Linked DNA regions of Homo sapiens. The protein of the gene in region 1 purifies or fractionates together with the protein of each later gene. This does not show direct contact. Each region holds a gene or a part of one and is shown in the gene's direction. Other genes may lie near its edges. The genes, in order: PROS1, TMPRSS13 and ITLN2.

What was found.
Region 2: the proteins of PROS1 (region 1) and TMPRSS13 purify together in Homo sapiens (co-immunoprecipitation; one large-scale study listed by IntAct). This does not show direct contact.
Region 3: the proteins of PROS1 (region 1) and ITLN2 purify together in Homo sapiens (co-immunoprecipitation; one large-scale study listed by IntAct). This does not show direct contact.

The regions. Positions count from the first base shown.
Region 1 is NC_000003.12:93,879,836-93,883,487, reverse strand, and holds part of PROS1 (vitamin K-dependent protein S isoform 2 preproprotein), read left to right. Parts: intron 1-3,652. UniProt on the Homo sapiens protein: Anticoagulant plasma protein; it is a cofactor to activated protein C in the degradation of coagulation factors Va and VIIIa. It helps to prevent coagulation and stimulating fibrinolysis.
Region 2 is NC_000011.10:117,919,381-117,923,032, reverse strand, and holds part of TMPRSS13 (transmembrane protease serine 13), read left to right. Parts: intron 1-3,652. UniProt on the Homo sapiens protein: Serine protease. Cleaves the proform of PRSS8/prostasin to form the active protein. Cleaves the proform of HGF to form the active protein which promotes MAPK signaling.
Region 3 is NC_000001.11:160,948,252-160,951,903, reverse strand, and holds part of ITLN2 (intelectin-2 precursor), read left to right. Parts: intron 1-613; coding exon 614-861; intron 862-1,192; coding exon 1,193-1,351; intron 1,352-1,737; coding exon 1,738-1,858; intron 1,859-1,981; exon of another isoform or gene 1,982-3,253; intron 3,254-3,652.

The DNA.
Region 1 (3,652 bases):
TGAGTAGCTGGAATTACAAGGGTGCGCCACCATGCCCTGCTAATTTTTGTATTTTTGACGAGGTTTTGCCATGTTGGCCAGGCTGGTTTCAAACTCCTGACTTCAGGTGATCTGCTTGCCTTAGCCTCTCTAAGTGCTGGGATTACAGGCTTGAGCCACCGTGCCTGGCCTAGAGAGTTTTTCATCATAGCAGCTCAGTTTTATGTATTCCCTCCATAATACGCCTCAAGAAAATGTCTCTCCCACTTGTGTCTCTCAAGTGTCTTGCCCACCCCTAGCAGAGTGCTCTTGTTACCTGACATTTGCTAACATGGCAGAGAAGATGCGGAGGTTGGGGAAGCATTCTATGTTGTTGTCGTACAAATTCAGTCTTAGGCAGGTGTTGTATCCCTGGGTCTCAGGAGTGTGGAATTTTCACTGTTCCTCTTCCCTGACTCTCATCAGTAGGGGAGATGTCTAGTGATCAGGACTCAATATGTTTTCTTGCTCCTTCTGCATGATAGATAGCTTTTTTTGTTTGTTCTTCCTAATCTGTAGTTGCAATGAGTCTTCATATGTGTCCTAATGACAAGGTTTGCTGCCTTTCTCCTGGCTTGAAAACTTGTGTTGTGTAGAGGAGACCGAGAAGGATCTAGATGGGGCTTTGTGGCTTCCCTGTAGCTGGTGCTGCTTTCAGGACCATATTAAGAGAGAGGCTTTTTCGGATCTCCTTCCCTGCACTCTGTTTTCTCTTGAGTGCATGGTAAGGTCTGTGGAGAAGAGCCTGTGAATGAGCATGAATTGTCTTTGTGTCTGTAATTTCTAGGGCTTCTAAACTCTTACGTCAGCCCCTACATGGAGTTCAGCAATTTGTTTAAATCTTTACCTAAATTATTTTTACCAAATTGCATGGCATTTCCTGTCTGCCCTGGATTAGAAAGTGTTCTCATTCTGGCTTTCCTTGGAAACACCTGTCTTTCTTTAGGTTTCTGGTTAGTTTGTTGCTCTGCGACCTCAGCTCTTTGATAGTTTCAAGAAAAGTCATGATTATGCAGATAATTTGGCTTTTGTTGTTGTAAGGGTGGGAGTGGTGCCCTTTCCACTTTTCTACAGCCTAAGTGGAGCAGGGAATCTTGCCATACTGACCCTAGGTTTTTAACCTTAGAAGTAATACTTCTGTGAACATCCTAAATCATACATCCTTCTACCTTTATGTGATTAATTCTATGGAAGAAAATTTTAGAATTAGGTTATCTCTATCAAAGGTTATGCAAATATATAATTATTAGAGGTTCAATTACATTCTTTTCCAAAAATCTTTTATCAATTAATATTTCTACCAACAGAATGAGAAAGTGTATGCTTTAGTTTTTTTCCAATCTGATAGTTCAAAAATTAAATTTTGTAGGTTTGAATATTAATATTATTTCTCTAATTTCTACTGAACTTGAATATCCTCCCATATGTTTATTAGCTATTTATAAATTCTAATTATTTTATTGAATTCTTTGTCTTTTTCTTTTTTAGTAGTTCATTATTTGAGCTACTAACACTTTGCATTATAAATTGTTAACACTAATGTGATATCTCTGCTTTAAGAAAAAAATTACATTTTAATTGTGTTTATTTGTAACCTAAAAAGGGCGAGGTAAGGTGGCTCACACTTATAATCCCAGCACTTTAGGAGGCTGAGGCGGGCAGATCCCAAAGAGCTAGAGCCCAAGAGTTCAAGACCAGCCTTGGCAACATGGTGAAACCCTATCTTCACAAAAAATACAAAAATTAGCCAAGCCTGATGGCATGCACCTGTAGTCCCAGCTACTCAGGAGGCTGAGGTGTGAGGATGGCTTGAGCCCAATATGTTGACACAGCAGAGAGCCAGGATCTTATCACTGCACTCCAGCCTGGATGACAGAGTGTGAGCATGTCTCACAAAAAAAAAAAAAAAAAAAGTGCTTACTACATTAAAATACATTTTTAAATTTTTATGTAATTAGGAGGTACAAGTGCAGATTTCTTACATGCATATATTGTGATATATTGTGTAGTGGTGAAATCTGGGCTTTTGGTGTACACATCACCCAAATAGTGAACATGATACCCAATTGGTAATTTTTCAACCCCTACCCTCCTCCCACCCTCCCATCTTTCGTAGTCTATATTTACTACATTTGTTTGTTTGTTTTTGAGACAGGGTCTCTCTCTGTCATCCAGGCTGGAGTGCAGTGGTGCAATCATGGCTCACTGTAACCTAGACCTTCTGGGCTCAAGCAATCCTCCTGCCTCAGCCTCCCAAGTAGCTAGGACTACAGCCACATGCCACCATGCCTTGCTAATTTTTATGTTTTGCAGAGACAGGGTCTTCCCGTGTTGCCCAGGTCAGTTTTCAAATTCCTTAACTCAAGTGATACTCCTGCCTCAGCCTCCCAGTGCTGGTGTTACAGGCATGAGCCACTGTGCCCAGCCTTTTTTACTGTATTTTTAAGGACAAATTTTACAAAAATGATTTCCCTTTTTCTAACACAAATTGATACAATGCCTAGTTCTGTTCTGCCTATGAAAGATTTTTTTAAAGTTATAAATGGGGTGAGGATTAAATTAGGATAAAACTAAATCCATGGTGATTTGGCCAAAGGAAAAAAATCCTGAAAAGGTAATGAAAATAAGAGTTATATTGTATCTAAAAAAATTACTTTAATAAGTAATTAATCATTTCATGGATAATTTGTAAGTGATCTACTTTGTAATTAATATTTAATGTTACATTTTAACTTCTATACATTCGTGTGTTCATTTTAGTTTGAGTTTAATATTCTGTGTTAAATTTACTTATTTCAAGATAAATGTTTAGGTGATAGAAATTCCAATTACCCTGATTTGAGCATTACACATTGTATGCATTTATCAAATGACATATGTACCCCAAAATATGTGCAATTATGATATATCAATTAAAAATTACTTATTTCACAATGATTACATATAAACATTCTTTTTTTTTTGGAGACAGAGTCTCACTCTTTTTCCCAGGCTGGAGTGCAGTGGCGTGATCTCAGCTCACTGCAACCTCTGCCTCCTGAGTTCAAGCGATTCTCCTGAATCAAGCCTCCCGAGTTGTAGCTGGGACTACAGGTATACACCACCATGCTCGGCTAATTTTTTGTATTTTTTTTTCAGTAGAGATGTTTCACCATGTTGCCCAGGCTGGTCTCGAACTCCTGAGCTCAGGCAATTCCAAAGTGCTAGGATTACAGGCATGTGCCACCGTACCCGGTCTATATATTTTTTTTCTTCTGGATGGGAGTTACAGGATTATAATGAAAAACAGTGACATTATATGTGGCTAAGTGGAAGAACATCTTGTCAAAGGAAAATGATTTTCCTTATTCACATTTACCCTTTCAAGGGCTCCGTGTGGTATTTGGGCTTTGCTGTATGTTACATCATATTAAATGAGGAAGACTTCATTCAGATTATGAACTAATATTTTTAGTAATCCAACTATTCTGGAAACATATTAATTCAACAAATATCTATTGAGTGAGTGCTGGGGAAAACAAAGCAATGATAGAGATATATACCTCCTAGAGCTTGCATGTTAGTGGGATAGACAATTAACCTAGTAATTAAGAAAGAGAATGTGAAGGATTATGACAAGAGATTCACAAAACAA
Region 2 (3,652 bases), on another chromosome or scaffold:
TCCCTTACCGCTTTCCTGCGGACCCCTGCCCTGCCTTCCTGCCCCAACACGTCTGGAGGGCCCTGAACAAGCCTTGGGTGAGGACCCTTGGGAGCTGCAGAGGCATAGCCAGGTGGTAGCAGTGACAGCCTGGGGTGTGGGCCTGTTCCATGTCATGGTAAGGGCTTACAATTGTGTTACTGCAGGGGGTAACCTCAGAGACTACCCCACGGGTAGGTGGGGAGGAGAGGCATGGTCAGGAAAGAATGGTTGGCAAGGTTAGGCCAGGGATGTGGCTCAGAGTTGACCACACTCCCCTGCTCCACCCTGTGCACCTGCCCCTGAGCAGGCTGAGAAGCCTTTGGTCTGCAGGCAGGTTGTGGAGACACCAGGACACATCAAGGAGTTGGTCATTTCACTTCCACTTCTGAGTCTTCGGCTCACTGCCAAAGGCCAGGATTTGGGAAGCTTGGGTTCTGGTCCTGGTTCTGCCCCTTGTAGCTTGGGACCTTGGATAAGAAGTCTCGGCTGGGCGCGGTGGCTCACGCCTGTAATCCCAGCACTTTGGGAGGCTGAGGCGGGCGCAAGATCAAGAGATCGAGACCATCCTGGCCAACATGGTGAAACCCCATCTCTATTAAAAATACAAAAATTAGCTGGGCACAGTGGCGCGTGCCTGTAGTCCCAGGTACTCAGGAGGCTGAGGAAGGAGAATCACTTGAACCCGGGAGGTGGAGGTTGCAGTGAGCCGAGATCACGCCACTGTACTCCAGCCTGGCGACAGAGTGAGACTCTGTCTCAAAGCAAACAAACAACAAACAAACAAGTAGTCTCCTCCCCTTCCTATTCCCCAGCTGCTGAAGGCCTCTACTCTGAGGGTGAGATCAGGCCAGCGGTGGGAGGCTAGAGTCTCAGCAGTTGTTCTCCAAGAATTGGGGAAAAGAAATGAGTTAGTGCTATAACAGGTTAGGTATCCAGAAGAACTTCCAGCAGCGTGGGGCAGCAGGCCGTGAAGTGCCTAAAGAAGGTTGGTGTGGAATCTCTTACTCAGATGATCCCTGAAGATGAGAACTCTTCTTGATGTCTGGGAGGGTTTGGGTTGAGGGTCAGAGTCAGGGGGTGGAGCGGGGACCTCACTCTGGATGCTGCTCTCCTCTGGTCTGGGGGCTGCCCTTCCATCCTGATGTCCCTGTTGGGACTTGTAGTTCTCTTCATGGGCAGTTCTTCTTCAGGTCTTGAGGCTCCAGAACTCTCCTCTTGCCCTGGTCTTGGGGTCCAGCCACTTTCCACCTGCCTCCCAGGCTCTGACAGCAGAGCACTTGCTCTACCCAGACCAGAGCTAGATACCCCCAGACCCAGGGCCTGCAGAGACTCCATCCCACTTTCGGATGTGTCGCCCTTTCTGCAGTTCTTGGCTTTCCACCAATGCCCCCTCCCCACCAGTTCCCTGTCTGGTCTGACTCCCTTCTCCTGTTCCAGCTTTACAGCTTTCCCCAGCTCCCTCCCCCCACCTGCCCACCCATTTTCCTCTGGGCCTCTTCAAGATGGGGCAGCTGGGGCTGGATGGGAGGGTTCTGTTCAGGTAGAGACAGCCTGAGCTGCCTGGGAATGAGACGACTGTGCTAGAGTTCCTAAAGACCACCAGCTCATTCAGGGGGTGAGGTGGGCTGTTTCGTCTCTCTGAGCCCCGGGTCCTTGTGTACAAACTGGGGATAGTAATTCCTGCCCAGCTTGCTAACTGAGAGACTTGTGAGAATCAAATCACATAATGGTGCAAAACTGCACATACGAGCCCTGAAGAGACGAAGGTAGGTCCTGTGGATGTTTGTGACACTGTAGGTCAAGGCCCTCCTTGCTCCAAGCAGGCCTGGTTAGAATCTGAGCTGTCACTTACCTGGTGTGTGAATTTGGGCATGTTCTTAACCTGCCTGGACCTCTGTTTCAATATCTATAAAATGAGGCTAACCATACCAACTGCAAAGAGCTGTCAAGAGGTTGGAATGGGGTCCCGTAAAGTGCTCGTGGGCTGTTATCTTTGTCATGGTTTGACACACATTTATAGACCAGGCTCTTTCATGTGTATCACCCATTTATCTGGGGGAAGGAGGTAAGGTCTGCCCATTTTACACATGTGGAATCAGGCACTGAAGGGTTATGTCGCTTGCCCAGGAAACGCAGTTGGGAATGGAGGCAATCAGATTCAGATTTTTCCATAGCAAGCCCAGCATTCCCACAAACAAACAAACAAAACCCCACTATCGGCTGGGTGTGGTCTGGTGGCTCACGCCTGTAACCCCAGCACTTTGGGAGGCTGAGGCGGGTGGATCATTTGAGGTCAGGAGTTTGAGACCAGCCTGGCCAACATGGTGAAACTCCATCTCTACTAAAAATACAAAAATTAACCGGGTGTGGTGGCGGGTGCATATAATCCCAGCTTCTCGGGAGGCTGAGGCAGGAGAATCCCTTAAACCCAGCAGAGGTCGCAGTGAGCCAAGATCGCGGCACTGCACTCCAGCCTGGGCAACAGGGCAAGATTCCAATACAAAAATTAGCCAGGCACGGTGGTGCACACCTGTAGTCCCAGCTACATGGGAGGCTGAGGCAGGAGAATAGCTTGAACCTGGGAGGCGGAGGTTTCAGTGAGCCAAGATCATGCCACTGCACTGCAGCCTGGGGGACAGAGCAAGACTCAAAAAAACAAACGAGCAAACAAACAAACAAACAAAACCCCTCCATCACAGACACGGCTCACCACACCCTCACTGTGTATTGGGCGTTTTACAGGCATGATCTGTGACCTCAGTACCACGAAGCAAGGTGCTTCGCTCTAGCTTACAGATAGGAGACTGAGATGTAAAGAGGTGAAGTCACTTGCCTGGGGCGCCCAGCTGCCTTAGAGGCAGGCCAAATTCCAGCCTGGTCTCTCTAACCCAGAGCACCTGAAAACTCACCTGACCCCGATGCCCCAGGCCACCAGGCACCTCCTGGTCTTGGCAGGTCACAGGGCCCCACTATGGGTCACACTGGAAAGTATCACAAGACCAAGATCCCTGTGGTAACCCCCAGCCCTATCCCCAGGTTCCCAAGGTGTTCCTGGCCCTGCAGGGCCAGGGGGCCCCATTCTTAACCAATCTCACAAAGGCAAAATGAGCACTCTGTACACGTGGTTCACGAAGACTGTGCAGGAAGCTCTTCTGACTCAAGAAGGGCAGGTGACTCAGAGACAAATAGGCATGGGGTAGAACCCTGACTCTGTGATTCTGCAAGATGAGCTCTGAGCCTTGGCTTTCCTATCTGTAAAATGGCCTTCCAAAATACCAACCTCCCAGGGGTGTGGTGAGGCCCTTGTGAGGCCACAGATGTGAACGTTTATTATCAACTCTAAAGTGCCAGTACACACACGAGTGATTAGTATTTTATTGTCCCGGCTTATGGGAATTCCCCCTGAAGTTGGGGAAGACTTAGAGTGTGCACAAAAGAGGAAGGAGATCAGGCAGGCTGGTGAAGGTGCCACAGTGCCAGGATCCCTGGCAGGAGCCGAGGCCCAGGCCACCCCAGGAGGGAAGGGCAGGGCCTTCTGCAGCTGGGGCTTGTCCATGTTATGGAAAGACCTTAGTCTGGCCTTTGTCCAGCATTCTTTTTCTCCTCAGATGAGCTCACAATGGCACTCAGC
Region 3 (3,652 bases), on another chromosome or scaffold:
TCTCATGACAGCCTCCACGAAAGATGGGAAGGGGGGTGAGAAGTGACCTTGTTGCAGCTCCTCACAAGGTTCCCATCTTTCCATGTTTGGGGAAGACCACAGGCTTTCTGCCAAGACTTAGGTCAGCTGTCCCTATGTGGCCTATGCGCAAATGTGCAAGGTCACCAGGATGCCACCGTGGAGCCAGTCTCCTGCAAGCTTGTGAACAGGAGGGGAACTCTGAGCTTAGGGAAGCTGAATCTTATGAAGTGGGCACAACCTTTGCTCTGAGCTGCACAGAGGCCCTATCCTGCTGTAGAATCAGATGTGGCGTGTGCTGATTTCTGGCCTCTCCTGGCCACAGGGTGGCACTGTCGAGAGGGAGATACCATCTCTGTCTCTTCTAAGACTATTTGCTCTACAAACTCTTTGAAAAGATAGTGTGAAGCCAAGACAGTCAGTGCCTCTGCTCATAGGTGAGCAGAACACAAGATGCATGGAGCATCGTCTTCCAGCAAGTATGTGTTGGAGTCTTCTGAGTGTGCTTTTGACTTCCTAGGGCTTTTCTATTCACGGAGCTGAGATGAACCCTGAGCTCTCAGACAGGGAGGCTCTGGGCTGGTTCTCTCTACAGATGGCCTGTATTTTCTCCGCACCAAGAATGGTGTTGTCTACCAGACCTTCTGTGACATGACTTCTGGGGGTGGCGGCTGGACCCTGGTGGCCAGCGTGCACGAGAATGACATGCGTGGGAAGTGCACGGTGGGTGATCGCTGGTCCAGTCAGCAGGGCAACAAAGCAGACTACCCAGAGGGGGATGGCAACTGGGCCAACTACAACACCTTTGGATCTGCAGAGGCGGCCACGAGCGATGACTACAAGGTTGGTGCCACTTCTCTCCTACTTGGGTGAGGGTGAGGTGTGGAGTGTGGCTGGCCACCAGCCTGCAGGAGGGAGGGCTGGAAGGTGGGGATATGGGGAAGGGCTGGAGAAGAAGAGAGAAATACAGGACTTGAATCACAACTTCCTCTCAACAAGGCTGTTAGGGCCCTGGGTGGTGGTGGGATCATCAGCTGGGAGTGGGGTGTCTGAGCGTGGCTGGCCATCTGCCTACTGATCCCAGAGCTCTCAGCCCAGCTGAGGCTGCACATGTGGACCTTCTGCCTCCTGGTACCTCCTGGCCCAGTCAGGCTCAGTGTCTGTTGCTTTCCAGAACCCTGGCTACTACGACATCCAGGCCAAGGACCTGGGCATCTGGCATGTGCCCAACAAGTCCCCCATGCAGCATTGGAGAAACAGCGCCCTGCTGAGGTACCGCACCAACACTGGCTTCCTCCAGAGACTGGGACATAATCTGTTTGGCATCTACCAGGTACACAGGGCTGCTGGCTGGGGGGCACTTTCTTTGGTGAACAGAGATCGAAGTGTCTAGGGTAGGGGGCAGATCTGTCCTGTGGTTCCACATCACTACTGAGTGGTTGGCTGTTTCTCCTTCCTTTGATTCACTGTGAACTCATGTCTGGCCTCTCAGAAACTCTAAGCCAGCAAGGAAGAGGCCTGTGGGACAGGAAAGCATGGGGAGAAAGAGACAGGGACAAGGGGTTTGGGGCTGTTGGGGAGACACAGCTATGGGGAAAAGCAGTCACTATTATGAGGATTGGTTTTGGGTAATGGCAGTTAATTTGAAACCCCTCCTCCCCCCACACTGTGGCAGCATCTCTACTGTCCTCACAAAACCTTTCTTCTGGGTCTCTGCAGAAATACCCAGTGAAATACAGATCAGGGAAATGTTGGAATGACAATGGCCCAGCCATACCTGTGGTCTATGACTTTGGTGATGCTAAGAAGACTGCATCTTATTACTCACCGTATGGTCAACGTGAGTGTTTGCTCCCTAAGTCCAGTCATAAATATTTTCTTGTACTCTTGGAGAATGGTGGCAAATAACAACAATTAATAATTGCTAGTATTTACTGAGCACTTAAAATGCACCAGACTCTTGTCTTGGAACTTAACATGATTTTGTGTCATTTAATTACCATGAGAAAACTATGAAGTTAGAATTGCTGTTATCCCCATTTCACAGCACGTAATCCCAGGTTTCTTCATCACCACCTTGTATACTCTTATAATTGTGGGGAAAAGAAAAAGAGATCAGACTGTTACTGTGTCTATGTAGAAAGAAGTAGACATAAGAGACTCCATTTTGGTCTGTGCTGAGAAAAATTCTTCTGCCTTGAGATGCTGTTAATCTGTAACCCTACCCCCAACCCTGTGCTCACAGAGACATGTGCTGTGTTGACTCACGGTTTAATGGATTTAGGGCTGTGCAGGATGTGCTTTGTTAAACAAGTGCTTGAAGGCAGCATGCTTGTTAAAGGTCATCACCACTCTCTAATCTCAAGTACCCAGGGACACAATACACTGCGGAAGGCCGCAGGGACCTCTGTCTAGGAAAGCCAGGTATTGTCCAAGGTTTCTCCCCATGTGATAGCCTGAGATATGGCCTCGTGGGAAGGGAAAGACCTGACTGTCCCCCAGCCCGACACCCACAAAGGGTCTGTGCTGAGGAGGATTAGTAAAAGAGGAAGGCCTCTTTGCAGTTGAGATAAGAGGAAGGCATCTGTCTTCTGCTTATCCCTGGGCAATGGAATGTTTTGGTGTAAAACCCGATTGTATGTTCTATTTACTGAGATAGGAGAAAACCACCTTAGGGCTGGAGGTGAGACATGCTGGCGGCAATACTGCTTTTTAATGCACCGAGATGTTTATGTATGTGCACGTCAAAAGCACAGCACCTTTTCTTAACCTTGTTTATGACACAGACATTTGTTCACATGTTTTCCTGCTGACCCTCTCCCCACTATTACCCTATTGTCCTGCCACGTCCCCCTCTCTGAGATGGTAGAGATAATGATCAATAAATACTGAGGGAACTCAGAGACTGGTGCTGGTGCGGGTCCTCCTTATGCTGAGCGCCAGTCCCCTGGGCCCACTTTTCTTTCTCTATACTTTGTCGCTGTGTCTCTTTCTTTTCTCAGTCTCTCGTTCCACCCAACGAGGAACACCCACAGGTGTGGAGGGGCAGGCCACCCCTTCAATAATAGTTAAGAAAAGGTGCATACAAAACATTAGCTGGGCATGATGGCGCATGCCTGTAATCCCAGCTCCTCGGGAGGCTGAGGCAGGAGAATCGCTTGAACCTGGGAGGCGGAGGTTGCGGTGAGCTGAGTTCACACCACTGCACTCCAGCCTGGGCAACAAGAGCGAAACCCTGTCAAAAAAAAAAAAAAAAAAGTGCACACTGAGGTTCACAGGAAAGAACCACTAGCAGAGTGGTGAGAGAGATTTACTTTTGTTATGAAGGATAACTTTAATTATCTTACAAAAGACAGTTTTCAGTATAATAAGAGCACAGAAGTTAAGTTGTGGATAAAAAAATCAAAGACATCACTGTTTGCCTTTGATATTTTGATGAAAGCAGGTGATGGTCAGGGAAACTAACCCATGGTAATTGGATGAGAAGTGTGTAAACAGCAATAGGCAGCCACATCTGATCATTGCTTATTCCTGCTGGGCCTTCTCAGATCTTTTTGGTAATCTTTTTGTAGAGTCTAGTTTCTCCTGTAAGCTGTAAGCAGACCTGGGTCCTTTTGTGAGTCCCAGCCTTTGT